Linked DNA regions of Homo sapiens. The protein of the gene in region 6 purifies or fractionates together with the protein of the main gene of each other region. This does not show direct contact. Each region holds a gene or a part of one and is shown on either strand. Other genes may lie near its edges.

The links.
Region 1: the proteins of ATP13A3 (region 6) and AGPAT4 purify together in Homo sapiens (affinity purification with mass spectrometry; one large-scale study listed by BioGRID and IntAct). This does not show direct contact.
Region 2: the proteins of ATP13A3 (region 6) and SKAP2 purify together in Homo sapiens (affinity purification with mass spectrometry; one large-scale study listed by BioGRID and IntAct). This does not show direct contact.
Region 3: the proteins of ATP13A3 (region 6) and ENTPD4 purify together in Homo sapiens (affinity purification with mass spectrometry; one large-scale study listed by BioGRID and IntAct). This does not show direct contact.
Region 4: the proteins of ATP13A3 (region 6) and ATP7B fractionate together in Homo sapiens (co-fractionation; one large-scale study listed by BioGRID). This does not show direct contact.
Region 5: the proteins of ATP13A3 (region 6) and JPH1 purify together in Homo sapiens (affinity purification with mass spectrometry; one large-scale study listed by BioGRID and IntAct). This does not show direct contact.
Region 7: the proteins of ATP13A3 (region 6) and GPR89A purify together in Homo sapiens (affinity purification with mass spectrometry, with the first as the bait; one large-scale study listed by BioGRID). This does not show direct contact.

The regions. Positions count from the first base shown.
Region 1 is NC_000006.12:161,267,048-161,271,181, reverse strand, and holds part of AGPAT4 (1-acyl-sn-glycerol-3-phosphate acyltransferase delta), read left to right. Parts: intron 1-4,134. UniProt on the Homo sapiens protein: Converts 1-acyl-sn-glycerol-3-phosphate (lysophosphatidic acid or LPA) into 1,2-diacyl-sn-glycerol-3-phosphate (phosphatidic acid or PA) by incorporating an acyl moiety at the sn-2 position of the glycerol backbone.
Region 2 is NC_000007.14:26,854,450-26,858,583, reverse strand, and holds part of SKAP2 (src kinase-associated phosphoprotein 2), read left to right. Parts: intron 1-860; exon of another isoform or gene 861-1,133; intron 1,134-3,693; coding exon 3,694-3,799; intron 3,800-4,134. UniProt on the Homo sapiens protein: May be involved in B-cell and macrophage adhesion processes. In B-cells, may act by coupling the B-cell receptor (BCR) to integrin activation. May play a role in src signaling pathway.
Region 3 is NC_000008.11:23,436,698-23,440,831, forward strand, and holds part of ENTPD4 (ectonucleoside triphosphate diphosphohydrolase 4), read right to left. Parts: intron 3,219-4,134; coding exon 3,052-3,218; intron 562-3,051; coding exon 237-561; intron 1-236.
Region 4 is NC_000013.11:51,973,272-51,977,405, reverse strand, and holds part of ATP7B (copper-transporting ATPase 2), read left to right. Parts: intron 1-2,237; coding exon 2,238-3,471; intron 3,472-4,134. UniProt on the Homo sapiens protein: Copper ion transmembrane transporter involved in the export of copper out of the cells. It is involved in copper homeostasis in the liver, where it ensures the efflux of copper from hepatocytes into the bile in response to copper overload.
Region 5 is NC_000008.11:74,241,381-74,245,514, forward strand, and holds part of JPH1 (junctophilin-1), read right to left. Parts: intron 3,796-4,134; coding exon 3,149-3,795; intron 1-3,148. UniProt on the Homo sapiens protein: Junctophilins contribute to the formation of junctional membrane complexes (JMCs) which link the plasma membrane with the endoplasmic or sarcoplasmic reticulum in excitable cells.
Region 6 is NC_000003.12:194,483,911-194,488,787, forward strand, and holds the start of ATP13A3 (polyamine-transporting ATPase 13A3), read right to left. Parts: upstream 3,093-4,877; 5' UTR 2,656-3,092; intron 2,638-2,655; exon of another isoform or gene 2,506-2,637; intron 2,327-2,505; exon of another isoform or gene 2,044-2,326; intron 1,926-2,043; 5' UTR 1,884-1,925; intron 1-1,883. UniProt on the Homo sapiens protein: ATP-driven pump involved in endocytosis-dependent polyamine transport. Uses ATP as an energy source to transfer polyamine precursor putrescine from the endosomal compartment to the cytosol.
Region 7 is NC_000001.11:145,610,842-145,614,975, reverse strand, and holds part of GPR89A (Golgi pH regulator A), read right to left. Parts: intron 2,775-4,134; exon of another isoform or gene 2,729-2,774; intron 1-2,728. UniProt on the Homo sapiens protein: Voltage-gated channel that enables the transfer of anions such as iodide, chloride, bromide and fluoride which may function in counter-ion conductance and participates in Golgi acidification.

The DNA.
Region 1 (4,134 bases), on a different chromosome or scaffold from region 6:
TCTTTAGTATAGAAGTAGAGCAGGTATACTCTGTGCTGGTTGAAAGCATAAGTAGATGTAAATTGGGGACAGAAGTTTTTCTTAATCAGAAAAAGAAGGACTGTTAGAAGACTGAACAGAAGGCAGAATCCTTCCTAATCCAATACTTTTTTAGCTTCAGCTTAACAACGAAAGGCCAGACTTACACTAGACTTTAAACAGGTATGAAACTGGGGAAGACGCAACCAGGAACTTACCCGGAATGTCATCTTCATAATTCCTGCCATTGCCATTGTTTTAAATTATTGGATGCTCAAATGAGGGTTTGGTAAATGTCACACGTTTTGTGCAGTCTCCTTTATTCTGGAAAGGAGGTCTGATGGTTATGGGACAAAGCCGCATTCACATTTATTTTTTTTTTGAGATGAAGTCTTGCTCTGTCGCCCAGGCTGGAGTGCAATGGCGTGATCTCGGCTCACCACAACCTCCCCCTCCTGGATTCAAGCGATTCTCCTGCCTCAGCCTCCCGAGTAGCTGGGATCACAAGCATGTGGCACCACGCCCAGCTAATTTATTTTTTATTTTTTTGTATTTTTAGTAGAGATAGAATTTCACTGTATTGGCCAGGCTGGTCTCGAACTCCTGACCTCAGGTGATGCACCTGCCTTGGCCTCCCAGAATGCTGGGATTACAGGCGTGAGCCACCGTGCCTGGCCCACATTCACATTTCTGAATGGTGTTTGACCTCTAAATCTTTGGTGAAACGCCTTTCATCACTCCTATTTTGAAATATAATCATAATAATCATGTAACATTTCCTAGAGCTTGGGCAACTCAAATTCATTATTCTTTGTGTGAGAATCAGTTTGGAAAGGAAGCGCTGGAACTCTGAAACCTGGCTTCATGCATGGGCTTGGGAAGGTCTGCAGTGGCTGCCAGGCTGTAGGAAAGAGGAAGCTTAAAGCATGAACTCTTTCTTCAACAGCTGTTTATTACGTGTTTAATAGGTGTCAGGTCCCACAGATGCAACTGTGAGCAAAACAAGATACAGTTTAAATAGTTATAGTTTTCAAATGGGTTTACAAGGGAAACCCCATGACTGGCAGATACCCATTTTCTTCTAATGACTGAATAAGAGGAAATATCTTAAAAGGAGTATAATTTGTTTCAACATTGTCATGGAACAATCCATCTACCTGTCTTCTTTTCCTTGGCACACTCTTGCTCCACAAAGATTTCCCATTGGTTTCATTGTTTGTCGTTATCTTGTTTCTCCGATCTAATTTGCTCTACTTCTTCCTTTGATCCTAAGTCCTACCTTTCAGTCACCATTCCTTCATCCATTCACACATACATGATACATCCATCTGTCCTCTATCCACCCCCAATCCCTTCATTTATTCAACAAATAGTGTTGAGTATCATGTCTCAGGCACTGTATATTATAGATATAGCAATAAACGGGAAACTGGTTTTTCCTTAAAGAAGCTTAAGAACTATCAGGAAGACAATGTGGAGACAGCCTCTAAACCATGGGGGTATGACTTTTTTTGGGGGGTGGGCAGGGTCTCGCTCTGTCACCCAGGCTGGAGGGCAGTGGCGCCATCATGGCTCACTGCAACCTCTAACTCCTAAGCTCAAGCATCCTCCTGCCTCAGCCCCCCTCCCCCAGCAGCTGGGACTGCAGGCGTGAGCCACCGCGCCTGCCCTGGCGGTATCACTTCTAATAGAAGCATTTATTGGCCAATGAAACAGGATACTTCTTTCATTGAACAATTTTATAAATTGTTCACACACAGCATAAACTGTGCTGGGCAGGGAGGGATCAAGTGGTTAGCTGTTGACTGTTGTCCATTTTATATATTTTTTGTACCTTCCATGCTGGTTGAGCATAAGGATGGTAAACATTTGTTAATTAACTAAATGGGAAGAGTGGAATTTCTAACGCAGGAGACACAGAGGAAGAGAAGGCTTGTGTATTCTCTTTCTGAAAGAACAATCTGAGAGAGAGAATCTCTCAAGGTTCCCATTCATAGTGAATTACTCATAGATTTCCAGGTGACAACAGCTCCCCCCACATCGACTCAAAGTATAGCATTTTAAAAAAGAAAAACTACCTGCGTCCAATTACATACCCATTAGTTCACTGAATATCCTCATGTCCTTTGGAGCTGATTTCCCATAATACACTGCAAGTCTCTGTCTTGTTCTGATAAAAACAAGTGGGTTTCAACCCCCTACAGCTTTCTTAATAGTAACAGCAGTGCATCCAGAAACTAGTGGTGGCTCTAGAGACCCAACACGAACAGTGTTGAGACCTCGTTGCAGCACTTTCTCTGTGTTTTCTGATGTCATGAAACTCTTCTTAGTAGAATTATTTTCCCCCACTTAAGTTCCACCGTCAGCCTGGAAATTATATGGACAACATGACAAAGTTCCTCTGGAAAACCACACTCCTCTGCTTGGCTGACCTTGGGAGAAAACATTTAGCAAGTTCTTCTTTTTCTTGGTTATTTTAAACTCAGATGATATCAGCATGAAGCTGTTCCTAATAACTCTGGTTGGCACGGGCATCTCTGCTCTGTTTAGGTTAAACATCATAACTACTTCATGGTCATTTCTGTGTGGGATCCTCCAAGACGAGAGGTGCATTTTGAATTTTATGTTAGTTTGAAGCCAGACACTAAAATTCCTGTAAGGAGAGGGGAACAACACACACCAGGGCCTGTTGGAGAGTGGGGTGAGGGGAGGGAACTTAGAGGATGGGTCAGTAGGTGCAGCAAACCATCATGGCACACGCATACCTATGTAACAAACCTGCACATTCTGCACATGTATCCCGTTTTGTTTTTTTATAGAAGAGAAAAGAAATTCTTGTAGGAGATGATGCCTCAGTCTAGTTTATGCCAGGTAACCTGCAGAGGTCATTAGAGACACTGAGGTGACTGGCTGACTTACAGGATATGCAAGAATGATGACAGCCTGCCTTCACTGAGGGCCTCCTATGTGCCAGTACATGGACTTCACATTTATTAACTCATTTTAGCCTCATAACAAAGCTAGTGTGTGAAAACTCTCATCGTGCTCCATTTTACAGAGAGAGAAAGTAAAGATGAGGGAGATTAAGCAGCTCAGCTAGGTCATAAGAAGGAGCAGAGCTGAGACGTTAACCCAGATCATCTGGGCTCTGCTTTCCCCTGTACCTTCACACCTTGCCATGGCATATTCCACAGTCTGTCTCCCATGCCCAGTGCAGAGCCTGGCACATAACAGATATGTGGTAAATTTATTTTTTAGTTTTGTTTAAAATGTTAAAAGTGAGACTGGTCTTTCTTTTAAGAGGCCAGTCTCACTTTGTTGCTCAAGCTGGCCTTGAATTCCTGGGCTCAAGCAATCCTCCCGCTTCAGCTTCCCAAGTAGCTGGGACTACAGGTGTGTACTAACATGCCCAGCTAATATTTTTCTTTTCTTTTTTTTTTTGAGACAGAGTTTTGTTCTTGTTGCCCAGGCTGGAGTGCAATGGCGCAGTCTTGGCTCACTGCAACCTCTGCCTCCTGGGTTCAAGCGATTCTCCTGCCTCAGCCTCCTGAGTAGCTGGGACTATAGGGGTGCGCCACCACACCTGGCTAATTTTTTTGCGTGTGTATTTTTAGTAGAGACAGGGTTTCCCCATGTTGGCCAGGCTGGTCTCGAACTCCTGACTTCAAGCAATCTGCCCAGTGTGGCCTCCCAAAGTGCTAGGATTACAGATGTGAGCCACTGCGCCCGTTCCCCAGCTAATATTTTTCAAATAATGAACAAATCTCTACCGTGTAGACCTCTGCATGCCTTTCATCCCAGTTGTTAAGAACAGCAAAATTACTGCAAGAAAGGGTAGTATTTTAGAATTTGGAGAAAAACTAACAGCAGTACTTTATAAGACAAGCTACTATAGTTTTCAGGGAGTGTTGTTTTTATTATGGTTTAGCCAGAGATGGTGGGAGAAGGGAAAGGGCCTTGTGATTAAAACCATCTGAGTGACAATGCAGTACATACATTAAATTAAAGATGAACTCTTCTCAAAACCAATGTGTAACCCAGGATTGAACTTGACTGAGCAGCTGCTCTCAAGGACACCTGTGGTGGCTGCTCTCAGAGTTCCCAAGGCGGTGGGTG
Region 2 (4,134 bases), on a different chromosome or scaffold from region 6:
TCAGTGATTTGGTGTGTTTGCCTCTTAGGGGTCTCCATGGCAATTGAGAGATTTCTAACTTAAACTGCTCAAGATTGCTGAGCCAGTATACGTCAACTTTTAATTTTGTTTTCAGACCTTAACATTTATCGACAGAGCAGTTGTAAATCTGATCTTTTCAGAGGCCTTCTCCCCCAGATCCTTACAGCTGTACCGTGAGATAAGGTTTACTCTTGACAGTGTTAAGGTGTATTAGGAGCTAAAATCCCATCACGTTTACTTTCACCAGGATAACTTTTTCCTGCTGATGACTTGGGCTGGGGTGGAGGCTGATGGAGATAGGGGTAATTCTGGGGTTAAATGCAAGCAGTGTAGACTCTGCAGTCTATTTGGCTGCCGGCCCGGAGGCAGGAGATGGGGGTGGGTGGGGGTAGTTAGACCTGGTAGTTAAACCCTTTCCCGCGGGCGCAGAGTGGGCCTCCCACGCTTCTCTCCCGTGGCCAGTATGCGTGAGAGTGTGAGTTGAGCCCCTGCCTCCGAGGAAGAATTCTAAAAACCGGGCTAAGGGTCGAGCGAGGGAGGCTGACCTTTTCTTGTTATCAAATTACTGCGTTTCCCTGAATTACGGGCACTCAGGAATGGTGAAATCTACATATTAACCGAGGAACACGACCCTCAAAGGAAGGTAGAAGAAGGCTAACGCTCTTGCTAGTTTACTGTGCTTGCTAGTTTACCGTTTGCAGGGCTATTTAGAGCACAATAAGAAGCTTCAAATCTCTTCTCCAACCAGCCAGAGGAACACTTGATTCGCCCAAGACTCTTATTGCTTGCTTTTGAAATATTACCCTGGCTCTGAGCTACAAAGCCACAGATCCAGCCCCATTTGTCTAGTGAGGGCTCTGCCCCAGACCCGGCTCTCCATGCTCACTGCTCCGCCTGAGAGGAACCCTGGGGTTTAACGCTGAAGTGCGTTTCTCAGAGGGCAGAGCTGGAGCATCTCGCAGCCCTACAACTTCTTTGCGGCGCTTGGTCTGTCTTTGCGTTGCGAGATCAGGATCGGTGTGTTGCTCAGACACCGGCCGAACGCCACCGGCACGTCTAGGAGTCTCCTGTGCCTGGAAGAGGCTGGTTTCATTCGATTCTAAAAGAAACGGGTAAAGTGTAGATTTTAAGAAATAACCTAGATTTCAAAAGCTTAAAAACCAACCAAGTTTGGTTGTGGACAGTCAACAAACTAAAATTATTTCGGGAACTGCTTCCAGTTTAAAGTTTTTTTTTTTTTTTTTTTTTTTTTAAGCAAAGCAGTTTCTACTCTCTCCACATCACCTTTGAGAAATAATCACGAAAAAGTCACTGTTTATTAAATAATTTTAGTTGCTTTAAACCTTTTCTGGGAAAAGCTTAGGAATAAGTATATTAAAAAAGGCTACTCTAAAAAAAAAAAAAAAAAGACCATACCCAATCTCTGAATTTCTGGCATCCTTGAAAAATACCGATTCTTCCTACAGTCCCACACTCTTTCAAAAAAAACTTTGTCATAAAATAGTAACATGGATCAGTATTTTAAAAACATGTTTGGGGGCGTTAGAGGGCACTATGTAGAGTGTTTATTGCAGCCTTTTTTTTTTTTTTCTGAATTTTTATAAAACTGAAATGACCTTTTAAAGAAAAAAACTCTTGGGGGCAATTCATTGTTATTACTTCCAGTGATAGAAAATAGATTGTTTGTTTAAACTTGGATTGTATAATGAAAATATAAAATAGGCAATTAAATACTCATGGAAGAGGAAATCAAAGGCAAACATTGAGTGAAAATAACATTAAGCAGACTATTCCCCAGTCATTGGGCCAGTGATTCTTCCTATTGAGTCTGGTTGGAAGACGAATCAGCAGTAGGGATGTTGCTTCTTCCCTTATTCCACTTTCTTGCAAAAGTTACTGTAATGATCTCAGGGGAGCCAGTGATCTTTTCCATTTCAGCTAATATCGAAATATCCAAAGGTTGCTTGCTGTTCTGGGCACAAAATTTAAAGCTTTTAGAGCAACATGCTTCTTCATAAGTTTTGTTATTTTGAATTCACTTTAGAAGTCTGTGTCTAATTTGCACTGGTACTAGATTATGTCTCTATGTCCCCCACATCAAAATATAACTCAAAGAAAGAGAAGCTGTGACATTTGCTTTCATTTCATTTTCATACTTTTTTTTAACACATTAGTTGTTAATATAACTCAAGGAAAGGGAAGCTGTGACATTTGCTTTCATTTCATTTTGATACTTATTTTTTAATACATCAGTTGTTAATATAACTCAAGGAAAGAGAAGCTGTGACATTTGCTTTCATTTCATTTTGATACTTAAATTTTTAACACATTAGTCGTTAATAGACTTCAAACCATAAGCTATTTTTTTTAAATTATTACAGTATTCTTAATTATTTTACTTGTCATATTGACTTAGTGAAAAATTACCTGTACACATTTATTATGAATGTATAAAAGTTTAATTGGCTTTCCTCATTGGATCAAGATACTTTTGTAATCAAGAATTACAAACATTCTATCACATATACTAGGTTTTAAATGGTTAATTGTAAGTACAGTTGAAAGATTATTAGATTATTATACTACTTTGAACTATTTATACGTAATATTGTTTTGATGCTATACAAAGTAGTTAAGGAAAAAGAAAGTAAAACACAAATCCCTTCCATATGAAATAATCAATGATTTATAGCCATGCCTACTTAAACATCTTTAATGATATCCTCCATATTAGATATTTCAAAATGAGGTGTGAAATTCTGAAAATAAAATTAAAATTGCACAGTATTTCATGAATAATAAGAATGGAACTAGTATAAAAATTAAACCTGTAAGGACTTGTTGGAATTTTACACTAGAGAGACCCAGACAGCACCGTAATTTAGAAGTTTACTAAAATTAAAAAAAGAGGCTATGAGGGAATGTTACATGAAGCCACAGAAATCTTGTTTCTTGGTGACTATATTTTTATATAGTGGAAGAACTTATGTTTGTACTTCTTCCTTAAGAAATATTTCAGGTGGTAATACCAAGGCAAGAAGCAAGAGCTCACAAAACTACACAGCTGGTTATCTTTTTTATTTGAGGGTAGTCAGAATGAGTGTGTAGGTAGGAAGAAGGAGGGCTTGATTTGGGAATCTTGGCTAGAAAAGTGGATTTACTTTTTCCTTTAAAGCATTACATGTTGGATATACCTGAAAATTGATTATACTAGGGAAAACAGACCCTTGCCAGAGACATTAGCTTGTATTGACATAATAATATGAATGACATTTTCACACAGGAACTTACAAAATACTAGAAAATGATATTAACACATGCTTAAAAGCTTGGTGCTTGCTTCCATATAAAGAATTTGTTTTATGGGGCACCATAGTTTATTAAAACTTGGTGTGTGCTTCTTCCTTGTTTAATGATGCCAAACATCCAAATAGTATTTGCTGTGGTAAGCATAAGTAGAACTTACAAATTTTATTAGCTAAGTGGTGATCAGATTTGTTCAACTTAGTATTTGAAACACACTTCAACTGTTATGCTTTGGAATGATAAATAACTATAACAAATTGTACAGGTATTAACACTTATATGTAGAAACAATCATTGTCCTATTTATCTTCACAAAACCTTTATTTCTTATAATTTGTATCCTGTTTCTTATATTGCATGGTTTAGATGTTGAAACATTTGTAGCAGATATACTGAAAGGAGAAAATTTATCCAAGAAAGCAAAGGAAAAGAGAGAATCCCTTATTAAGAAGATAAAAGATGTAAAGTCTATGTAAGTCACTTACCTTTTGTTTACTGATTTCTTACATAGAAGCAGTTTTGTAACTAACATTTTAATAAGAAATCGATTATTATGGAGTTAAATTTTTCATGTTCCAGTTTAACTGATGTTAAGTATTTTTGAAGGGCAAAAAATATATTTCCACTATATAGTTTTTAAACACAGATATGCTTATCATAGTACCCTTCTTGATTATGTATTTTTCTGAGCATTCTAGCAGAGTTCAGCTGTTTATTTTGATTATCTGAGGGTATATTTGGTTTAAATGATAAGACAAAGGTGGATTGAGGACTTTAATATACAGAAAATACCTGACACTGAAGAAA
Region 3 (4,134 bases), on a different chromosome or scaffold from region 6:
AACTGATGACCAGGGTAGCTAATGGAGTGGTGCAGAAGTCAGCGTACAGTACATTTTTTACTTCTGCTGTGACTATTCAACCTCCCTCCAAGCAAAGGGAACAGGATCCCAACATGCTGCAGTGCAGCCTTCTATACTCCGTCTTTCCCTGTCAATGTGAAAGGAGGACATAACCCGTCACCGTCCACACTGGTCTCTCAAAAGCATGCAGAGCAGACGGCGTCTCTCAAGGGTACCTTTGCAGCTTTAGTAAATTTAGCAGCATTGTAGTCTCCCCCCATTCGTAACACATCCTCGGTGCAGTAGTAGAATTCGGAGAAGCCATAGAATTCACTGTTCTGGAAGTGAATTGGGGGCTGGTAGACCCCATTGAGGGAAGTCTGGGTCTCGTTTGTTTTATTCATGAAAGGCTGGATAGTCTCTCGACACAGGTCAAAGTCTCCAGTCCCTCGTAGGTATATGGTTTGTCCATTTTGCTGGATTTCATCTTTAATGTCTAGGGGTAGGCAGGGGTCCAAGTACGGCATATCAGGAGTCAGACCAGTCTGTTTACCCAGGAGCCTATGGCAAAACAAGAAACTTCATCGTGAGTCCTACAGAAAACTGTGTTTTCAGGAAGTGGCTGCAAACCAGTGTTTCTCAAAATACGCTCTGTGGGACATGAGACCTGCAGGACCGTGTCTGTGGAACAGAAAAGGGTTCCGAGATAATTAGTTAGGAAAATACACACTTGAGACTTTCTTGGAGAGTCAGGATACAAACTTGCCTGCAGCAGACAGGCTACCAGAGTCCAGTTGGATAACCTACCCGATTAGCCGACGATCCTGGCAACAAGGCCTGATGTTCCCAGCTGCTGGGCACAAGGCAACTGTGTTACCAGCCCCATTTTTGCACTAGTGCTTGTGGTTTTACCTAATACAGATGGAAGGAACGTGACTGTGACAAGATCCGGTCCTGGGCAAAGCAGGTTAGATGCTTTAGAAAAGTTACTAGAAAATTATCAAACTAGGTGTGGGTAGGATTTTTAAAACTGGGAAAAATTAGCAAACATCTAGAAGGATTTGGTATCAAATTGCCTTGCAAATCTCTTTTAAGTCCTCAGTATTCTTTAAACAAAGACAAACTGGTATCTCAATGAGGGGTGCAGTGCATGCCAAAGAAAGGATGGAGTCTAAAAACAGACCTTGGTTCAGAGGAAAAGATTAGCAAATGAATACAGAAGTTAAGACAGAATGTCTAAGGCTTGGCTCTATTTTTATCATTCTGTTTCAACTTATTTCTTTCCTTGATCAGCTATGGGTCCCAACTGCAGCAGACAGCAGTTTCCATTGTACAATGGGCTCTGAGATGCCCTGTAGAAAATAAACATTAATTTTGTTAACTGAAAGGCACTAGGCTTATTACTTGCTAATGAAATTTCTGGGAGTTAACATCTGTCATCCTATTGTGTGTGCATGCCTTCAAGCAACAAGAAACAGAGAAGAGCTCACAAAATCTCAAGTGATGTTGGTGTTGGATACTGTGAAATCACAGGGGCCTGACAGGTGTTGAACTGTTAAAGGGTTAAGCATGGTCAGAATTCAATATTCATCACCGACAGTCAAGTTTTCACTTTTCACTCAACTCACAAGTTGTGTATTCCTCAGATCAGGGTTACTCATCATGCAGTTGAATGTAATAAATTAAGGTCTTTGCCATAAAAATGTTCGCTTAATTTAAAAAAATTAATCACCACTACAAATGGCGAAGAGATAAATGTGTACTTCAATGCTCAATTCATGACATATGAAACACCTGTAATTACTATAAAAGTCCAAGAGTAGTCAAATATATATTTCATGCTATTATTTTTAGTTGTCCTATATCTAAATTAAGAAGTACCACTAAACTATCCATTATATAAAGCTTTCTGACATTAAAACCAATGAGTAAAAATTAAGGTTTCGGAAAAAATATGTTACAAATGTTGTCTATAAAATATTTCTAGTTTAAGACTACTATAAAAATGATTATACCAAAATGTGCTAAATACCAATTAAAAATACAAAATCATGGGACTACCAATCTTATAATTAAAACTATTCAGTTAACTTTTGGAAGAGACACAGGAAAAGGTTTTTATTGCTTTTCCTATTTACACACATGACTTTGTGGTAAATGTACTGAATAGCTCCAACTTGGTCTTTTTTCAAGTTCAGGCCTTCACAGGTTTATTAAGATTACATTAATCAAGGAAGTATACAATCTCTTAGCTCTATGAACTAGGATTTTTTTCCCTCAAAATTGTTTCATCAAAATAAACAAATAAAACACAGTAATAAATAGGATAGCTTACATAACCCCAGATTCAGATTTTTTTATTTATCCAAATAGCTTTTATGTTCTTACAAATTTCAAATAAATAAGTGCTATATACTTACACTTATACAGTCAATTTAAACCAATAGAGTGCTGTTTTGTTTTATATATTTTCTATACCACAATTCTTCATACACTCATTTTTTAAAGCTTCATTGCTAAATTCAAAAGCCACTAACTCTGACTCTTCTAGATAATTTATTTCTCTTGAATAATTCCCTTCACGATGGTTCTTATCCACTAACTAGCTGCACTGGCTGCTTCATCCACAGAGTCTCCAGAACATCACATATTTCAATCTCCTCAGCAACAAGAGAACACACTACCTGAGGCCTCCAGGACACCACGAGTGCTCCAGATACTGGGTTTCCCAAGGACTCTGAATCATGAATAGCACCACCCAGGGCTCCAAACTATTCTATAGCTTGATGGTGAAATTTCTAATCCATCAGTTGAGATGCGGGTGAGAGAGCGCACGCACACACCTCCTTCAGGGCACGGTGGGACAGAGGGCCAAAGGCAGGACCCTGGTGTGCTTTCATCTCTTCTCCCTGCTCAGCTAGTGGGGGAATAAAAAGCTAACAGTGCAACACACTTTTGCTAATTGAGTTCTTCCCACTTTGCCTGGGTCTGTTTTTTATGAGGAGAGACCTAGGTTTGCAAATGACTGCCAAGTAGTGAAAGGTGCTTTACCTGTTCTTTTGAATGGTGTTGGCAAATATTCTGTCTTCGTATCTCTGTCGAGCAGCATTGCCACCAAACCCAAGAAACGTGGCCACATAGACTCGATACACATGCTCAGTTTGGTGAACATCACATCCCAAGTTAAATTCAGCTAACAAGTTTTTAGCTACTTCTTCCTGCAGACATAAGCATAACAAACCTTAATAGCTTAAGCTACTTTAGCCTCCTACTAAAAAGAAAAGTCTAAAAATAGTCTCATCTAAAAGGGACAAAAATGTCTGCTTCTGCACTTCCCAAGGACCCTTCTAAGCATCACTCATAATTCAATATGACAATTCTGATTTAGGAAATTTCAGATGGGCTGCAAATTTGTGATACTGTTATGACTTTTTGAAAGAGAAAGTCAGCAAAATAGTTCATACCCTCTGACATAATTTATTTCTGGAATCCTATGCTGTGGAAATACACCTAAACATGGAAATGTTTCTATATGCAAAGATGTCCTTTGTCATTCTGTGACAGAAAAAACTAGATGTCATCTAAATATATAATAGCAAGGGAAGGTTAGTTACAGTAATCAATAGCTTATGGAGGAACATGCTCATGCACTGTTAAATAAAGGACAAAAATCATATAAACTAAGATTATAACAACCATATTTTTTAAAACTATGAGTAGAAAAAAAAAGAAATTCACTAAAAGGCTAACAATGGCTTTTTTAGGTGATGAATCCATGGGAAATTTTTAATCTTGATTTTTCAGTATTTATTCCAAACGTTATTTCTATGTATTTTTTACTTTATATTGAGAGGGAAAAACATGATTTTTTACAAAGAGTGTAACAGTCTCTAGAGGCATGTCTGGAATGGGAGGTAGGAAAAACAAATTGTAATACTTGAATTTACAAAGCATTTTTCCAAGGAACTTAATAAAGATGTCAGTAACATTTATTGAGAACATACTAGCTGCCTGGCAGTGCATTAGATATACTGGATGCATTATCTCATTTAAACCTTCTAATAACCCCATGTTGTAGGTACTTTTGTTCACGTTTACAGATGAAGAAACCAGCTTAAAGAAGGTACATGACTT
Region 4 (4,134 bases), on a different chromosome or scaffold from region 6:
GTATGTGTTTGTGTCTTAGTTTTTAACAAAAATGCTTAAACAGTTTAAAAATAAAAAAATTTTAAAAGCTTATAGGATAAGTATATAAAGAAAATATTTGATAAAGCTGTCCAGTGTGTTTGTGCTTTAAGCTAAGTGTTATTACAAAAGAGTCGAAAGTAAAAAAAAAAAAAATTAAACGTTTATGAAGTAAAAAAGTTACAGCAAGCTGAGGTTAATTAATAAATTATTATTATTGTTTCAGAGACAGGGTCTTGTTTTGTCTCCCAGGCTAGAGTACAGTGGTGCAATCATAGCTCACTGTAACCTTGAACTCCTGGGCTCAAGCAGTCCTCCTGCCTCGGCCTCCCAAAGCATTGAGATTACAATGAGCCACTGTCTGGCTATGTTGATTTATTGTTGAAGAAATAAAACTATTTTTTATAAATTTAGTGTAGCCTAAGTTTACAGTGTTTATAAAATCGACAGTAGTGCAGTGTCCTAAGTCTTCACATCTACTCAACACTCATTCACCGACTCACCCAGAGCAACTTCCAGTCCTGCAAGCTCCATTCATGATAAGTGCCCCATACAGGTGCACCATTTTTTAATCTTTTATATTGTGTTTTTACTGTACCTTTTCTATGTTCAGATATGTTTAGATACACAAGTACTTACCATTGTGTTACAATTGCCTACAGTATTCAGTACAGTAACATGCTGTACAGGTGTGTGGCCTAGGAGCAACAGGCTACACCATACAGCTCAGGTGTTTGGTAGGCTACATCAGCTAGGTGTGTGTAAGTGACTCTATGATGGTCACACAACGATGAAGTCACAATGATGACTCATTTCTCAGAATGTATCACCATCCTTAACATCATTAAACATTCATGTATTTACTGGATTCAGCAATATCTTTTGAACTGCTGTCCCCCAAATTACTTAATTATTCCCTTTTTTCTCTTAGGAAATGCTACAGTGAATATTTAAAATTCTATGTAATTATTAATCCCAAACCTTTGTGGATATAGAAATCAACATTTATATAGTCTGCATTTTACAAGTTATTTAAACATTTGTGTTGTTAAGCTGCTCAAAAGCCGGTTGGCAAGGTCTGCATTTTATGCACAGGAAAAAGGAGAAGATCATTCCATGTAAAGGAGATTCATCTGAAGACAAGCAGGATTGTGTACAAGTAGAGAGAAATGTGCTTTTTTATGATGTATCATGTATAAAGGCCTGTTCCCAAATTTCTGAAGCACATGGAAGTTCTGGTGTAAAAAGTATATCTAGTTAAGACAGCTGTAGGCTGGGAGCCTGTGAAAGGAAGATTTTGCTTGTTAATAGAATGACTGAGACTACATCATCCTGTGTAGAAACCAGGGAATAACACTTGTACTGTGTTGTGTTAAGAAAACAGGTTCTTTAATTAAGTGATGTACCTGAAATTTCAGGTAATGACTACAGCTCTCCTGAACACCCAGGAGGGCGGTGACACTGAGTCACAGGCAGAACTATGAAATTCCTTGTGAAACTCAACTTTCTGTTCTTCCAGCCTTTCCCCTCCCGCCCCTCGGCTCAGCCACAGGTGCTCATTAAACCTCGCCCAGGGAGCATACCTCCAAAGCTTTTTCACAGGCATGTGGCCCACCTTTGGATTCCGACCCTATGGTCCTGGGAAGTCTGCATTTGGAGCGTGTACCTGAAGGGTGTTAAGCACATTTAACCTCTGCTAAGATAATCAGACAGACACCCCTAGAAAGAGATATAGAAGTAAGGTGTTGACTATTCTGGGGTTTGTATTTCAGCAGGACCCCCAAAGTTTGAGCTGAAAGGACTAAGTTCTGTGGGGAGGTATCAGCCAGAGGTGGGGACCTCTTTTGGGATACCTGTGCCTTCCCACCGTGAGCCGCTGTGCCCTCTGCCTCTGCTGCAGGCCAGCCGTGCTGCATTCCATATGTAAAGCTGTGTCGTGCTTTCCTTCTTTCCCTCAGAATCCTCCACGTCTGTTGTGTGAGAACGACATTTCACTAAGGAGGACAGACAGTTAGCTTCTGTCAGAGAAGAATGTCAGAGCTCTTTCATTTTGTAGATGCTGCCTTTAGCTTGCTTTCTGTGTATGTTATGTTCTTCTACCCTTGGGATATTTTGACACCAGTGGCATTGTTTTCCATTTTCTCAGTGCCAGAGAAGCTGGGATGTTGTAGAAAATATTTGGTTTCAAGGTTAAAAAATGTTATTTCTTTTCTTTTTAGATCTTATCTAAGCTTTCTTTGCCTACCCGTGCCTGGGAACCAGCAATGAAGAAGAGTTTTGCTTTTGACAATGTTGGCTATGAAGGTGGTCTGGATGGCCTGGGCCCTTCTTCTCAGGTGGCCACCAGCACAGTCAGGATCTTGGGCATGACTTGCCAGTCATGTGTGAAGTCCATTGAGGACAGGATTTCCAATTTGAAAGGCATCATCAGCATGAAGGTTTCCCTGGAACAAGGCAGTGCCACTGTGAAATATGTGCCATCGGTTGTGTGCCTGCAACAGGTTTGCCATCAAATTGGGGACATGGGCTTCGAGGCCAGCATTGCAGAAGGAAAGGCAGCCTCCTGGCCCTCAAGGTCCTTGCCTGCCCAGGAGGCTGTGGTCAAGCTCCGGGTGGAGGGCATGACCTGCCAGTCCTGTGTCAGCTCCATTGAAGGCAAGGTCCGGAAACTGCAAGGAGTAGTGAGAGTCAAAGTCTCACTCAGCAACCAAGAGGCCGTCATCACTTATCAGCCTTATCTCATTCAGCCCGAAGACCTCAGGGACCATGTAAATGACATGGGATTTGAAGCTGCCATCAAGAGCAAAGTGGCTCCCTTAAGCCTGGGACCAATTGATATTGAGCGGTTACAAAGCACTAACCCAAAGAGACCTTTATCTTCTGCTAACCAGAATTTTAATAATTCTGAGACCTTGGGGCACCAAGGAAGCCATGTGGTCACCCTCCAACTGAGAATAGATGGAATGCATTGTAAGTCTTGCGTCTTGAATATTGAAGAAAATATTGGCCAGCTCCTAGGGGTTCAAAGTATTCAAGTGTCCTTGGAGAACAAAACTGCCCAAGTAAAGTATGACCCTTCTTGTACCAGCCCAGTGGCTCTGCAGAGGGCTATCGAGGCACTTCCACCTGGGAATTTTAAAGTTTCTCTTCCTGATGGAGCCGAAGGGAGTGGGACAGATCACAGGTCTTCCAGTTCTCATTCCCCTGGCTCCCCACCGAGAAACCAGGTCCAGGGCACATGCAGTACCACTCTGATTGCCATTGCCGGCATGACCTGTGCATCCTGTGTCCATTCCATTGAAGGCATGATCTCCCAACTGGAAGGGGTGCAGCAAATATCGGTGTCTTTGGCCGAAGGGACTGCAACAGTTCTTTATAATCCCTCTGTAATTAGCCCAGAAGAACTCAGAGCTGCTATAGAAGACATGGGATTTGAGGCTTCAGTCGTTTCTGGTACGTAGTGTGTTTGAGGCATGTCCTGAGCTTGTCTCCTTTTCTCTTTGTGTCTTATAGCTCCTGGATGGTGGTATAGGTGAGCCCTGCTCCCTGCCTCCCATGTCAACAGTGGAACAAAATCCTGCAAACTTTCCTTGCATGTTAAATTTGTTAAGATAGAGGAAATATAATCTCCAAGTGTCTAGATTTTGCTTTTCATGTAGTTGGGATTTTGTATTAGTCTGTTTTGTGTTGCTTATAACAGAATGGCTGAATTTGGGTAATTTATAAAGATATGGAATTTGTTTCTTATAGTTACTGAGAAGTCTAAGGTTGAGGGCCACATCTGGTGAGAGCCTTCTGCCAGTGGGGACTCCGGTGCCACAGGGCATCACATGGCAGGGGTGCTGAGCATGCTCACGTGGTTGCTTAGGTGGCTCTTCCTCTTTTTAGAAAGCCTCGATGCCACACCTGTGATAACCCATTAATCCATGAGTGGATTCCATTCATGAGGGTAGAACCCTCATGATCCAGTCACTTCTTAAAGCCCTCACCTTTTAACACTGCCACATTGGGGATTATGTTTCCAACACATGAAATTTGGGGGACACAGTCAAACCATGGCTGACTTGAATGCGAACCTCCTTGGATTTGGGCTTCTTTTCTGGAGAGAATTCTGAT
Region 5 (4,134 bases), on a different chromosome or scaffold from region 6:
GCAAAATGAAAAAAAAATCTGTCTTGCTTTTCAAGACTGACTGGGACAGGTGTAATACAAGAAGCTGTAGCAGGGCACAGGGTAAGTCTTGATTGGAAGAAATTTTCCAGGTGGTAAGAAAATAAAAAACAGGAAATCAAAATACAGAAAGAAATCCTAACTCAAAAAATTATCTTTTTTTCCTTTAAGAGATTGTCACTCATATTTAAAACTGTAAGGAATTTTCTGCTAGAAGAGTTACTATGGTTTATGTGAAATCTAAAGCTTCTCTAGCTAGAAACACAAGAGAAGAACAAAGTTTAATTAAGTATTAACAGCAAAGTTTAATTATATATATTTACCTCTTTCGGGGGTGAGGTTCAAACCCAATTTGATGGGGACGCTTTAAATTTTACACAAATTCAAAAGAAAGATTAGATGAACCTCAAAACAAACTTGGATGCAAATCACAGGAATGGCTGAGAAAAAAGTGTAGTCATTTTTCAGAATGGGCTGAGATACCTAATTGGAAAATTCCCCTCTTGTCTACTTGATGGTAAGACGCTAAAGATGCCTCTTCTGACCCTACCAGAGTTGTCATGTTGCAAAACTCTACAAAAATTTCGGGATCACATTGAATGCGTGCCCCTAGGACATGAGTCCATACGCAACCATTGCCCACAGGGGTCACAAAAGTTTCTTGAGGAAAATCTTCCTCAAGAAAGTAATCAATGCCACAGCCTCCCTTCTCCTACCTCTCATACTCGAGTTAACTAATTTCCTGTGTTAGTCTCCATCCCAGGAGATTTTCTGTATTTCTAGGAGATCAATAGCCAGGGTGATCCTGAGGATGGATCAGATCTACTTGAATATTTCTGAACTGCTTATGCTTCAGTTAGCATTGTGTTGAAACAAACATCATAATAGCCAAGGTTTTTTGAGCATTTATTCTGCGCTAGGCACTATGCTAAGAACTTTTAAAGTATTGACTCATTTAATCTTCACAACAACCCTGTGATAGGTACAGATGAGGAAACCAAGGCACAGAGCAGTTAGGAAACTGTCCAGGGTCACACAGCTGGTAAGCAACAGAGCTGGGATGTGAACCGAGGAAGTTCAGCAACAGAGTTCAATTCTGTGAATTTTAAAATTATTCACGAATGTCTAACTTATACAGTGTCTTTCTCTCAAAACTATGTAGTACTCCATTATCTTAAAGGTCATCCACTGACAACATTTATGATGACTGTGCCACTTCCTAACTCTGAGGAGTGGGGACGGCAGCGTTCTGTTACTATTGGGAAGACAATGTTAATTATTAGAATCTTCGCGTGAAGGTGTCAAGTCGGTCTTGAATTTTGCAGAGGCAGTCTAAAGCTCAGGGTAGCTGCGGAGCTGCTGGGGCTTCCCTTCCCCCTTGGGGTGTAGAGGGGTACCCTAAGGACCAACTACTGAGATGGAGGATGCTTGTCTAACTCCAAGAATCTGAGAATTCCGCAAATAAGTAAAACAGATGTTTTTTCTAAATGAGGAGGCTGTGAATTTACCAAACATACGTATACTACTGTTTTACAGAGAGACTCTTTCAGCTAAGAGCTGGGTAATTCAACTTTTTTTTCCCCCTATCACAGCCTAATGTATAGGACGCTGGGGCATACACTTCCCCTTGTAGAAGTCTAGAAGTCAACTAAAGCCCACAAATGGGTACCCAAAGGTATAAAAGGTATGGCCTTGCATTGTTTGAATTTTTCCCTGTGTAAATCAGGCAAACTAACACTGATATATGCGAGGCCTTATTAACCTGGGGATAAACATGCTGAAAGTCAAATGAGAAGTAAGCTATTACATTTAACAAATTCAATAGTGATTATTATAGTTGTAATGTCAAGATACTGTCATATTAAGGTTTAAAATCTTTAAAATGAATGCTTACTGAAGAGTCAGAATCTTAAAGTTAGTCTGTTTTGAAAACAATTTTTCTCCATGCAGGTGGACTCCTAGGAAGTTGGTCCAGTTAATCTGAATAATTTATGTTTAGCTAATTAAAAAGTTGAAAATTTGAAAAAAGAAGAGAACCAGTGTTTTATAGATATTAGCAAAATAAACACACAAGAAATTTTAAGCATAAGTTAACAGAGGAATTTTAATTGTTTAATCCTGTGAGTAAATCAAACAGACAAAAATAAGAAACTGATGGCTGTACTATATTCTTGTTGGCCAAGATATTAATCCACACCATTATGCAAATATGTCTCTATAATTTCTAGTGAATACTAGGTGTGTAACTTTCAACACCTCTGTTCTAAAGGGATGTGATCAGGTCAAGAGGTCATTTTTTAATCAATAATTAGCTTCAGATTTTATAAATACTATAGCATTTGATAAAACACTAATTCCATACATTATTCAAAAAATCTCCTTTTAAAGAAGGTATAAAGATTTTTCAATAACACAGAGCTTTTCTGGCTGAATAATAAATAAATATCTTAAATGCTTAAGACTAATTGATACTAATAACCTGCATCTACCAGAAAACTGAAATTGTAAGAGTTCTCACACTTTGAAAAGACAGAAGACCAAAGAAATTCTCTTGAACTGTTGGAAATTTTCAGTTCTCTTTTGGGAAAGAAAAATGTTCTAGCTGCAAAGCCTGGCTAATTAAAGTCCAAACTACGTATGTATGAGAAGAATTCACAACGGCTAGAGGAGACGTTCTTTTGTGTAAAGATGCTGACCGCTGTGGTGAAAACAGGAGAACTAAGAACTTGTTGGTGCCCTTTTCCTAGAGCTCTGAGAGCGGCTGGCCCTTGGCAGGGGTCATGATTCCTTTCCAGCAATCAGAGAGCAAGCTACCAGGAAGCTCACCAAGACACGCTGTTAAAGCCTTGCTAAAATGTGCTAAGATGCTGTGCTAAGCTGGTCAGGTCTTACCTACCTGAATTACATCTAAAGTGGGGCTGGGTGAACATAGGGGTGGTGGGGGGAATTTCTGCCCAGAGAGCTCTTTGCTGTCTCAAGCTACCAATGTGTTATGTGCTGCTCTAAACAACCCTGTGCTTCTAGAACCTTGGTTAGCCTGGCTGTGATCAAGATGCACAGTCACCCCACACAGCTCGCTGAAAGAAACAAAGGGAAGAAAGAAAGAGAAAACGCTACTTGCAGTACTTACTGAATTGGCTTCTTTTTCCAAAGCAGGGCATGAATCGTTGCTTGCTGGATTCTTTGGTATAGCAAGTTCAGACTTCTTAGCTTTTGGCTCAGCTTTGCTTTCTTTGGCAACTGGTTTTGTCACAGATTTGGAGGGACTCCACTTGTTAGCGGATGGCTTGTGCACCAGTGCTGAGGAAGACTGGCTGGATCCATCGCCGTCCTCCACGTCTACTGGAGGGTGCTGGGGGGCGTTCAGCTTCACGTAGTAGCCGTGATACTGAGAATGCAGCTCCCCGTTACTGGGGTTGGGGATGTGGTGGCGGCCAGAGTACTTGGACTGGGGCACAACCGCTCCTGCCTCCTTCGTGGGAGCCTTTGACATCAAGGGCTTATTGACAATGGCCGTCACCTGCTCATCAGCCACACTCCTTTTGTCTTGGTTGAGTCTCGCCCCTGAGCTGGGGTTTTGCTTCTTCAGGGGCTTTGGGGAGGAAGCAGGAGAGTGGCTGTGTTTGGGACTTGCCTCAGGAGATCTTGGGGGTGTCGTGCCTTTGCGATAAAAATGAGGAGACTCCTTTGGTGTAGGTGGCTTTTCTGGTACCTTTTCTTCTGGATTTTCTTTAGCATCTACACCTTCCTGAAATCTCTGTTTGACGTAATCAGGGCCTGGCCAAAAAAAAAAGAAAAAAGAAAAAAAGAAAGGAGGTATATATACATATATTTTGCTAAATCAGATTAACCTTTTCTCTTTTAAAAATAATATATTCATAAGGCTTTGACTAAACACATATTTCATTCTCTGGGGAAAAGTTTATTTATTATGGAAAGGCTGCTTTTAAGATAATACAGAATCTAAACAGTTCTGGCTTCCCTGATAATTGCATTCTTTCTGCCTACTTGCAGAATACAGAGGCAAAATTCATGTTGATGGAACATTGGTCGCAATATCATAATTAATCTGCTTGTTCAAATTATGTGGTGTAACTAAGACACAGAAAGTGTATA
Region 6 (4,877 bases):
TGAGTACAACATATCTAAGAGTTAAACTGAGCTATATTTGAATGGATGATAAATGGAATAGGAGTTGGCAGCTTATCACCTATCAAAGAAAACAGTCAAAACAGTTCACAGTTGTGTGCTAAAAGAAGGTGATCTAGTGTGTGACACCTATTAAGATGACATATCTGATTTATCACCAGAATCTGAGGTTCAGAGATGTTATGTTGCCTAGTCACATACAACTAACCTTATAAACCCAGAGACAGAAACCTCTGTGTTAAGCACATTAACACAGAGCTAGGTTTCTGTCTGTCTTCAAAGTCGCTTATACTGTAAGCTCCTTAACTTCTTTAATTTTTTTTTTAACAAAGAAGAATATTGTTACCTGAAAGTGTTGAGGATTAGTTGAGACCATATGTAAAGAAAGGAGCACTTTTCCTGGCACATAATGGTTTCTTTCCTTCTTCCATTCCATATATTGAATCAAACTATGCTTGTATAACGTGGTGGTTTTGTAACTACTGTGAATATGAGGTTTTAGAATATGAATATGCTTTATTCCTAAGATAAATAGTAATCTTAGGACATAGGCACTATATCATATTACTATGGATATACAACCTACTCAATGGTCAAACTCAGTGAGAATAAGCAGTGATGGGGACGCCCTATGGAACTTTATCTTTATTCTGTCTTTTTTCTCAGTCTCAGTGATGTTGGAAATAAGAACTTTATACTTGTGAATGACAACAAAGTGGTTTATAATCTCGAAAATCTTGAAGACAGAAATAGGATTTCAAAATGAGCTCGATAATGTGGTTTATCCAAAGCGGATTCTGTGTGTTGTATATTTGGTGACCTAAACTAACTATGTAAGTATCAACCGCCAAGCTCGGTGGCTAGCGCCTGTAATACCAGCACTTTGGGAGGCCTAGGCAGGAAGATCACCTGAAGTCAGTAGTTCACGACCAGCCTGGCCAACGTGGTGAAACCCTGTCTCTACTAAAAATACAAAAAATTAGCTGGGCGTGGTGGCACACACCTGAAATCCCAGCTACTTAGGAGGCTGCGACAGGAGAATCGCTGAAACCCAGGAGGCAGAAGTTACAGTGAGCCGAGTTCACACCACTGCACTCCAGCCTGGGCAACAGAGCAAGATGCCATCTCAAAAAAAAAAAAAAAAATTTAAAGCAACCAAATAGTGTCACTTTTCCTACCCAATCCCCTGACCAAAGCCAGGCATTGTTGTTCTAACAAGGCTCAAAATCTCAATTATTTCACTCTCTGCCTGATCTAATGGTAGGATAATGCAAATCAAAGATACCAGCAAAAGTTATGTTCTACAACAATCATTAATAATAGGTTTACTACTTCGAACAACTTCCAAGCACTGATTTGCCTTAAAGGGGTTGCAAACCAGGATGAGATGCCCACACACATTGATTTTTGGCAACTGTAGTCTATTAAGCAAAGCAACAAACCTCTAGAGAAAATAATGTCACATATATTCCAGTGAAACAAAATTAATACATGTACCTTGGTAAAGAGGCTGAGCTCTAACCAAAGATAGAGCACTGTTCATTACGTACTCACCCTTCAAAGGAATCAAATCGAAACACTTTCATTTTAACAACGATACTTTTTAAAGGCTTTATTTTGCAATAATCTTTCAAGTCCCTGCATTTCTTAGATTCCTTAAATTCTAACTTCCTGCCTCATAGATCTAAAGTAGCCATGACATACCCAGGTATGTTCTACTCATTTAGTTAGAATCGTATAGAGGAACACAAGTCTGTTTCTAGGTGTACGACTCCACACCCATTCATTTTGCACTAATATAACCACTAAATATAGCTCTAAGACACTGATGATTAAAAGCGGCTAATTATGTGAGTGATTCATACCTCCTATGTCCAAACACCAAGATTCAGGGATGTCTGTCAGATCTATGGGAAGAGGAAACAATAAACACCTGTCACAAAGCTTCTTCCACACCGGGAAGCCCCCAGCTGAGTTCCTGCCAATCCCAACCCGATTCCCTCCCCCTTCATCCCTACCCCTCACCTCCCCAAAAAAGCCAGAGGTCATACTTCCACCAGAACCTGACTCTGTGAAGGGAATGGAGAGACAGAAAGGCCATAGCGAGAGTGGCCACGAGAGCACTGCTAGGGCAAAGGGCCCTGGGTTTTTCTAGTCCTCACTGCCACAGAGTCCGAGTGGGAGGCCTCAGGCAAGTCAGAAGTCACTTTTCCTCCACGGGACTCACTCCTTTTATCTGTGAAATGCGGAGATGGCAAGCAGCTCCATACTCCACGGCTGAGGACGAGCTAGGGTCCCGCACAGACTCATCGAGGGCCCTGCCAGCACCCCTACGCCTCTGCCCACAGGACCTCCACCTCCCACAGGACTTTCCGAAAGCTCTGACTACCAACCACCAAGCGCCCGGCCCCCACGCTCGCCCCCGGCAGGCGGCGCGTCCCCCCCAGGCCTTCGCACCCACCGCGTGGGCTCCTGCCCTGGCCTCACCTGCCCCCGACACTCCCCGTCCCCGCGATGCCCAACTCCGGCCCGAGAAGGCTGGCCGCGACCTCGCCCGGTACCCGCCGCCCCGACACCACCATTCGCCTCCTCGACCTCCCCCGGCGCCGCTGCCCACCCGCCCCTCGCCCCGCTCACCGGGGCCGCTCACTGGCCGCCGCCGCGCCGCCTCCTCCGCGGCCTCCCTCGCGGCCGGACCAGCCCCAGGGACCGCGGGGGACCCGGCCGCCGCTGTCGCCGCCGCCGCCTCGCCTCAGCCCAGCCCCATCGCCCTCGGCCGGCGCCGCGCGCTGCGGCTCAGGGTGAGGGAAGGAGGCGCCGCGGCGGGGCCGGGCCGGCCCTGGGACGTCCGCGCTCTCCTCCTCCTCCGCGCCCGCGGCGGCGGCGTGCAGCCGGCAGGGCGAGAACAAGGGAGGGCGGCGGGAGGTGGGCAGGGGAGGGGGGCGGTCTGCACTCCGAAACGGCCCCCCCGCCGCCAGCGACGTAGAGAACCCCCCTCCCCTCCGCGGCGGCGCCCGATCACGCTGCGGGGAGAGCCGGCAGGCAGGCGGGGGAGCGCGCGCGGGCTCAGGACTCCCGCGCCGGATGTGAGGTCACGTGGTGGCTTCATCCCCGCGCGGAGGGCGGAGGGGCGCGGGCGACGTCAGGAGGCGGGGAAGGGGCGGGGAGGGGCGGGGCGATTTATAGGCCCCGCCCACCCATCGCCTTTGCCACCCTCGAACGGGCAAAAGAAAGAAAGAGGCAGGTAAGGGGAGGCGAGGCCGTCCAAAAACGCTGGGTGTCAGCCCGGGGTGGCTAATGGAGGGCGGCTTTTCTGGTGGGATGAAATGGAACGGCAAATCCCACTTCATCCCCTTTGGGCTATGACAACATCATAGTCCAATCTCCCATTTTATGAACAGGGAAACTGAGGCTCAGTGACTAGACAGACGTTGCCCAGAGTCATGGTCATGGAGGAAGCTTGTGCTAGAATGGTGGAGAGGAAACCAGAGCCCAGCTCCTAATGCAAGGCTCTTTCATTCCTTTAGCCACCCTCGCCCCCGCCAAAACAAACAGACAAAAAACTGTCATTCTCATATGACCACGGACTCTGCGCCCCGGCCGCAGGCGGAGGACAGGGAGGAGCGCACACGAGAAAGCTCCCACGCGCCCGCGCCTCGCCTCCGACGGGAAGGCGCCTCTTCCGACCGTCCTGGATGCAAATTAAATACTTCCCTCCGCAGAAGACTTATCTCGGGGTAGGGCCGCAGCCGGATTTCCAAATCGCGGGTTTGATTTTCGCTGCGTCCTCTCCGCGACGCGCGCAGGGAGCGCGCCCGGCCACCTGCAGCCTCTGGCTGCGGCCATCTTTCCGCCTGGGGCCACCTGGCCTGCGCCCTTTGTGCCCGGCCCGCTCCGTGACTGTTCTTCTTGCCGCTACTTACAGAACTCAGCCGCCTTAGCGTCTTAGAGAAGAGGACGGCATGCATGCGGACCCCGTCCACCACACCTGGAGAGCAGGGAGCCCTTAGTCCCTGGACACTTACCAGGGCCGCCACCCCTGGTCCACGCACGTGATGACATCTCACCAGGGGCAGCACACCGCCCGAGTCCGCGACACTGATAACACCTCCTGCGGGCAGGAGGGCGCCACAGCCACCCCTGGTCCCCTAGATTGTGTGAGGCTAGCATTTCTGCCCGCCTCTTGGCGTGGACAGCACGCTGGACCGAGATGGAACCACAGCTTTCTCTTCCCAATCCCTGGCCTCACCGTTTTGTTTCATACCTCACCGTTTGTTTCAAACCTCGTGGTGTTGAAATGATTAAATGAGATTAAGGGGTGTGTGGTAGTGTTGGGCAAACCACAAGAAAACGGTCTGGGTGGGGTCTGGCCCTAAAATCTTCCTCCCCCACCTCCCAGGCTTCCTTGCCTTGCTGCTTCCTCTCAGCCTTTAAACAGGTTGGCCTCTCCAAGTCCTAAAAACAAAATTATCAAGCCAACCTCCTCCTGAAGTGCTCCCTCCAACTAGCTTCCAAGTGTTTCATGCGGACCTCAAACAATGGTCTTCCCTGGCTGCCTCTGCTTCCTCATTTCTCAACACTTGGCATTCTGGCTTCTCCTCCCCAACTCTAACCCTTCACCTTGCTCAGGCAAGAGCAACTCATGACTTTCATTTTGCCAAACCTTGCAGGCATTCCTCAGGCCTTATCTCTCTGGTTCTTTCTGCTACATTTGACACCTTGGGATGACTCTCACCTTCTGGAATCTCTCTACTACCTTGGTTTCAGAAGAGTGAACCCTCTGGATTATCACATGAAGGTAAGTAAAGCCTCTGCCTCCTTGGTAACATCTACTTGTGAATCTGCACCTTAAATTCAGG
Region 7 (4,134 bases), on a different chromosome or scaffold from region 6:
AGCAAGTGTAAACTCAGTAGTTTAGCACAGACTACTTTAGCTTCTTATCATGCCCCTGCTGCCTAGCAAACTCATGTGTTCAGCCCCCTGGAACTTCTTTGGTTCTTTAGATCCATATTCTTTCACATCGAGACCTGTGTAGATGTCCTCTGAAAGGAACTTCTCTCTAGCCCTCTCCCAGTTATGCTATTTACTCCCCCTGGAAGGCCCTCTCTGCCCTCCCAAATGCAGATAAATTGCTTTTTATATAATCCTGTTTTACATTGTACTTCCCTCATCAAAGTGCTTACCATACAGTTTTGTAATGTGTGATTTAAATATTTTTTGACATTAGATTATAAGCTCTATGAGGACAAAAACCATGTTTGTCTTGTAATCTTTGTATCCTTGGCATCCAGCACAAAGCCTGGTACGTAGCAGGCTCTCCATAAGTGCTTGCTGAATGGCTAAGTGGTCTACATAAAAGATGGTTTATTCTTCAGCATTCAATCTTAAATTTTCTGTAATAACTCCTACGTGCTATGCTAAGTGCTGAGGATACAAAGATGAATAGGATGGTTACTACCCTCTAGGAGCTCACAATATAGTGAAGACAGTACATAAATAATTATAACATAATATGGATGTGCAATGATAGAAATACATACATGATATTGTAAAACAATATGAAAGAGGGAGACCAAACCAATCTGTAAGGGGTTAGGACAGATTTTCTGGAGAAGATAATGCCCGAGCCGAAGGAAGTTTTAATTTGGGGTTAAAACCTGATATTGTATGCACATTTTGGGGTTATGTGCATTTTTCTAGAGTGGTTTCAAGGTATTCATCACACAGTCAAAGGTTTCCACCACCCCTAACATAAAAACCATCCTCTCAAAGGATGAATAAGAATCAAGTAGGGAGGCTGGACATGGTGGCTCACGTCTGTAATCCCAGCACTTTGGGTAGATCGCTTGAGCCCAGGAGTTCGAGACCAGCTTGGGCAACGTGGTGAAACCCCATCTCTACAAAAAATACAAAAATTAGCTAGGTATGGTGGTGCGTGCCTGTAGTTCCAGCTTATGGGGAGGCTGAAGTGGAAGGGCCACTTGAGCCTGGCAGGTAGACGTTATAGTGAGCTGTGAGCATGTCACTGCATTCCAGCCTGGGTGACAGAGCGAAACCCTGTCTCAAAACAAAACAAACAAACAAAAAACGAATCAGGTAGGGTAAAAACAGGTGGTAGGGGTAGGAGGACAGGGCTTTCCAGATAGCAAAGGGCATGAGTAAAGGCGCAGAGTGAATAGCATGGTATATGCCGGGAACTACACATGGTTTGGTGCTGCTAGAAGATGAAATTCAAAGAAGGAAGAGGTTAAAAATGAGGCTAGACAGGAGGAGTGGATGTCCAATCACTGAGAGCTTTGAAGGCCACCCTAAGGAGCTTAGATTATAGTCTGTAGGTGATGAGGGTTATTTAAGCAGGGAAATGGCATGGTCTGATTTGTTTTATATTATATAGAGCGGTATGGTGGCTGTATGGAAGACACACTTGAAGGAAACAACAGTGTAGAAAGAGAAACATTATAGAAATGTGTTATGGGAATTCAGATGAAAGATGATAAAGCCCTGAATTAAGACATTTGGTGACAGAAGAGGAGAAAACAGATTTGAGAACTATTTAGAAGGTAAAATCAACAGGGAGAAGTCAAGGATGACTAGTTTGGAATACAGGATGAAGAGTGAAGCTACCCAATTTATATAAAGAATACTGGAGAAAGAAGAGGTTTAGGAAAGGGGGCAGAGGATGGGGAAAATGATGAGCTCATTTTTGAACACACTAAGGGCCTGAGGGACAGCCAGCAAGATGGATCAAGATATCCAGCAAGTATCTGGAATAAAAGACAGATTGTGAAGGCAGGTCTAAGATATACCTATGAGTTGAAACCACCAAAGTACATGAGATCACCTGGGAATAGTATCTAGAGTAAGGAGAGCAATGTGCCAAGAAGAAAACACTAGAGGATAAGGAAAACAATTTTGAATAGTGAGGTAGAGGCAGGAACCAGAGTGTAGCAGGTCAGAATGAATGGGAGCTAAAGCAGTGGGGACAGTAAATGCAAATTACTCTAGGGAGAGCCAGGAATGAGAAAAAAAGAAAACATTAGATAATAGGCTAGAGAAGAATGTGGAATAAAGGGAAAGTTTATTGGCCAAGGGGAAAGAAAGCAGTCAAGTAAGGAGAAAAAGATGAGAAGGATGGTGGAATACTAGAGGATAAACTGATAATACTATTATTAATATGATTAGGTAACTTTTATTGAGCATTTACTATACTACAGGCTCTCTAAGTAGTACTTAGCATTATAATCTTATAAAAATAATTAAAAACTCAGTACAGTGGTTTGATTATCCTATTTTCACGGAGAAAGATGAGGTTTAGAGAAGTTAATCAATTTATAGTAAGTGTCAGAATCAAGATTGAACTCAAGCTTGTTTGACTCCAAAATCTGTGCTTTTTTTTAAATATTATTTTTTCAGCTCTTATTGAGTCTGTCTGTTTAGAAAATCTGTGCTTTTAACCACTTCAAAATACGCTACTCTAAGATCAAAGGTAGGTAGAATGGCTTTAAACCGGAGTAGGGGAACCCCGTTTTCTGAAATGGGAGGAAAGGAGGTAAGAATGGTTGTGAACACAGATAACCTTTTAGATTAAAATGCAGAAAGTATTCATAGTAGGAGATCATACCTTTTGGCTTCACTTTTGTTGAGTAAGTACGAGGCAAGGTTATCTGCTAAGAGTAAGAGAGGTGAGTTAGAAAAAGGAGCTTTGAGGAGAGTGACAAAGATTCGGAGAAACTTTGAGGGGAATGAAACAAGTAGCTGATTAAGGTCAAGAAAAGGAATAATTCAGTGAGCTGAGGGTTAAACTCCTGGCGTTGGCAAACTACACAGCTATGTGATTTTCTATAGTAGCCTTCAGGCCTCTGTATTAGTAGTAAACAAACTATAGCAGTGATCCAAGTGTGGACTTATATATACATGAAGGTAAACGAACAAGAGGGTGTAAGAAAGTAAGTTGGATCCAAGCATCTAGATCAAGCAGAAAAGGAAAGGGTCAAACAGATTAGGAGAAAATGTCCAGGATATCCTTTGGCTATTATAAATATTTACCGGTGGAGACAGATGTAAATTCAGAGTTTAGAGACCATATTTATATGACTTATGAAGCCACGACTGAAGACAGAGAAGTTGGGCAGTTAGGACTGAGGGTGGTATGTATAGTGGAAATGGATGATTAAAAAAAAAATCACCAAGATTGCTATGAAATGGAAGAGAAAACAAGCAAAAATTTTAAGTTTATATGGTGGGGAGGGGAATGGAAGAAAAGAGAAACAGATATATACCTTTAATATTTCATTGTGGCCTCCTTTCACATTGAAAAAGAAAAGCTTAAAAAGACTTTCAGAACAAAATTATGTCCTTTGCAGCAACATAGATGCAGCTAGAGGCCATCATCCTAAGCAAATTAATGCAAGAACAGAAAACCAAATACCACATGTTCTCACTTCTAAGTGGGAGCTAAATATTGGGTACTCACCAACATAAAGATGGCAAAAACAGAAACTGGAGACTACTTGGGGGCAGGGGAGGGGAGAAGGGGGAAGGGTTGAAAAACTAATTATTGAGTACTATGCTCAGTACCTGGGTGACCGGATCATTTGTACCCCAAACCTGAGCTCCCACAATATACCCGGCACAAGTACCAAATCTAAAATAAAATAAAAGTTGAAAAAAAAAAAAAGACTTAAACTACACACACACACACACACACAAGTAGCTGGAGAATTCATTTACATCCAAGTAAACACAAATTCTGGCAAGATTATAGAGGATCCAAAAAGAAAGCAGAAGCAAAATGCAATTTCAAATAGCTTTGCAAATAAAATGGAAGGCGTATAGCTTCTTATTAAAAATGAGACTTGATACTTTCAGAATTGTACAGAGTCTTGACCTTAGGACTTAAGAGTGTACTCTGGAACTGATAAGTCTTATGACGGTATAGAGGGCTCAAAACATGAGTTAGTTAACAGTTGCTTTTAAAAAAGTGACTTCTGGGTTGAAAATTAGCTACTGTTAAAAAAAAAAGATGGC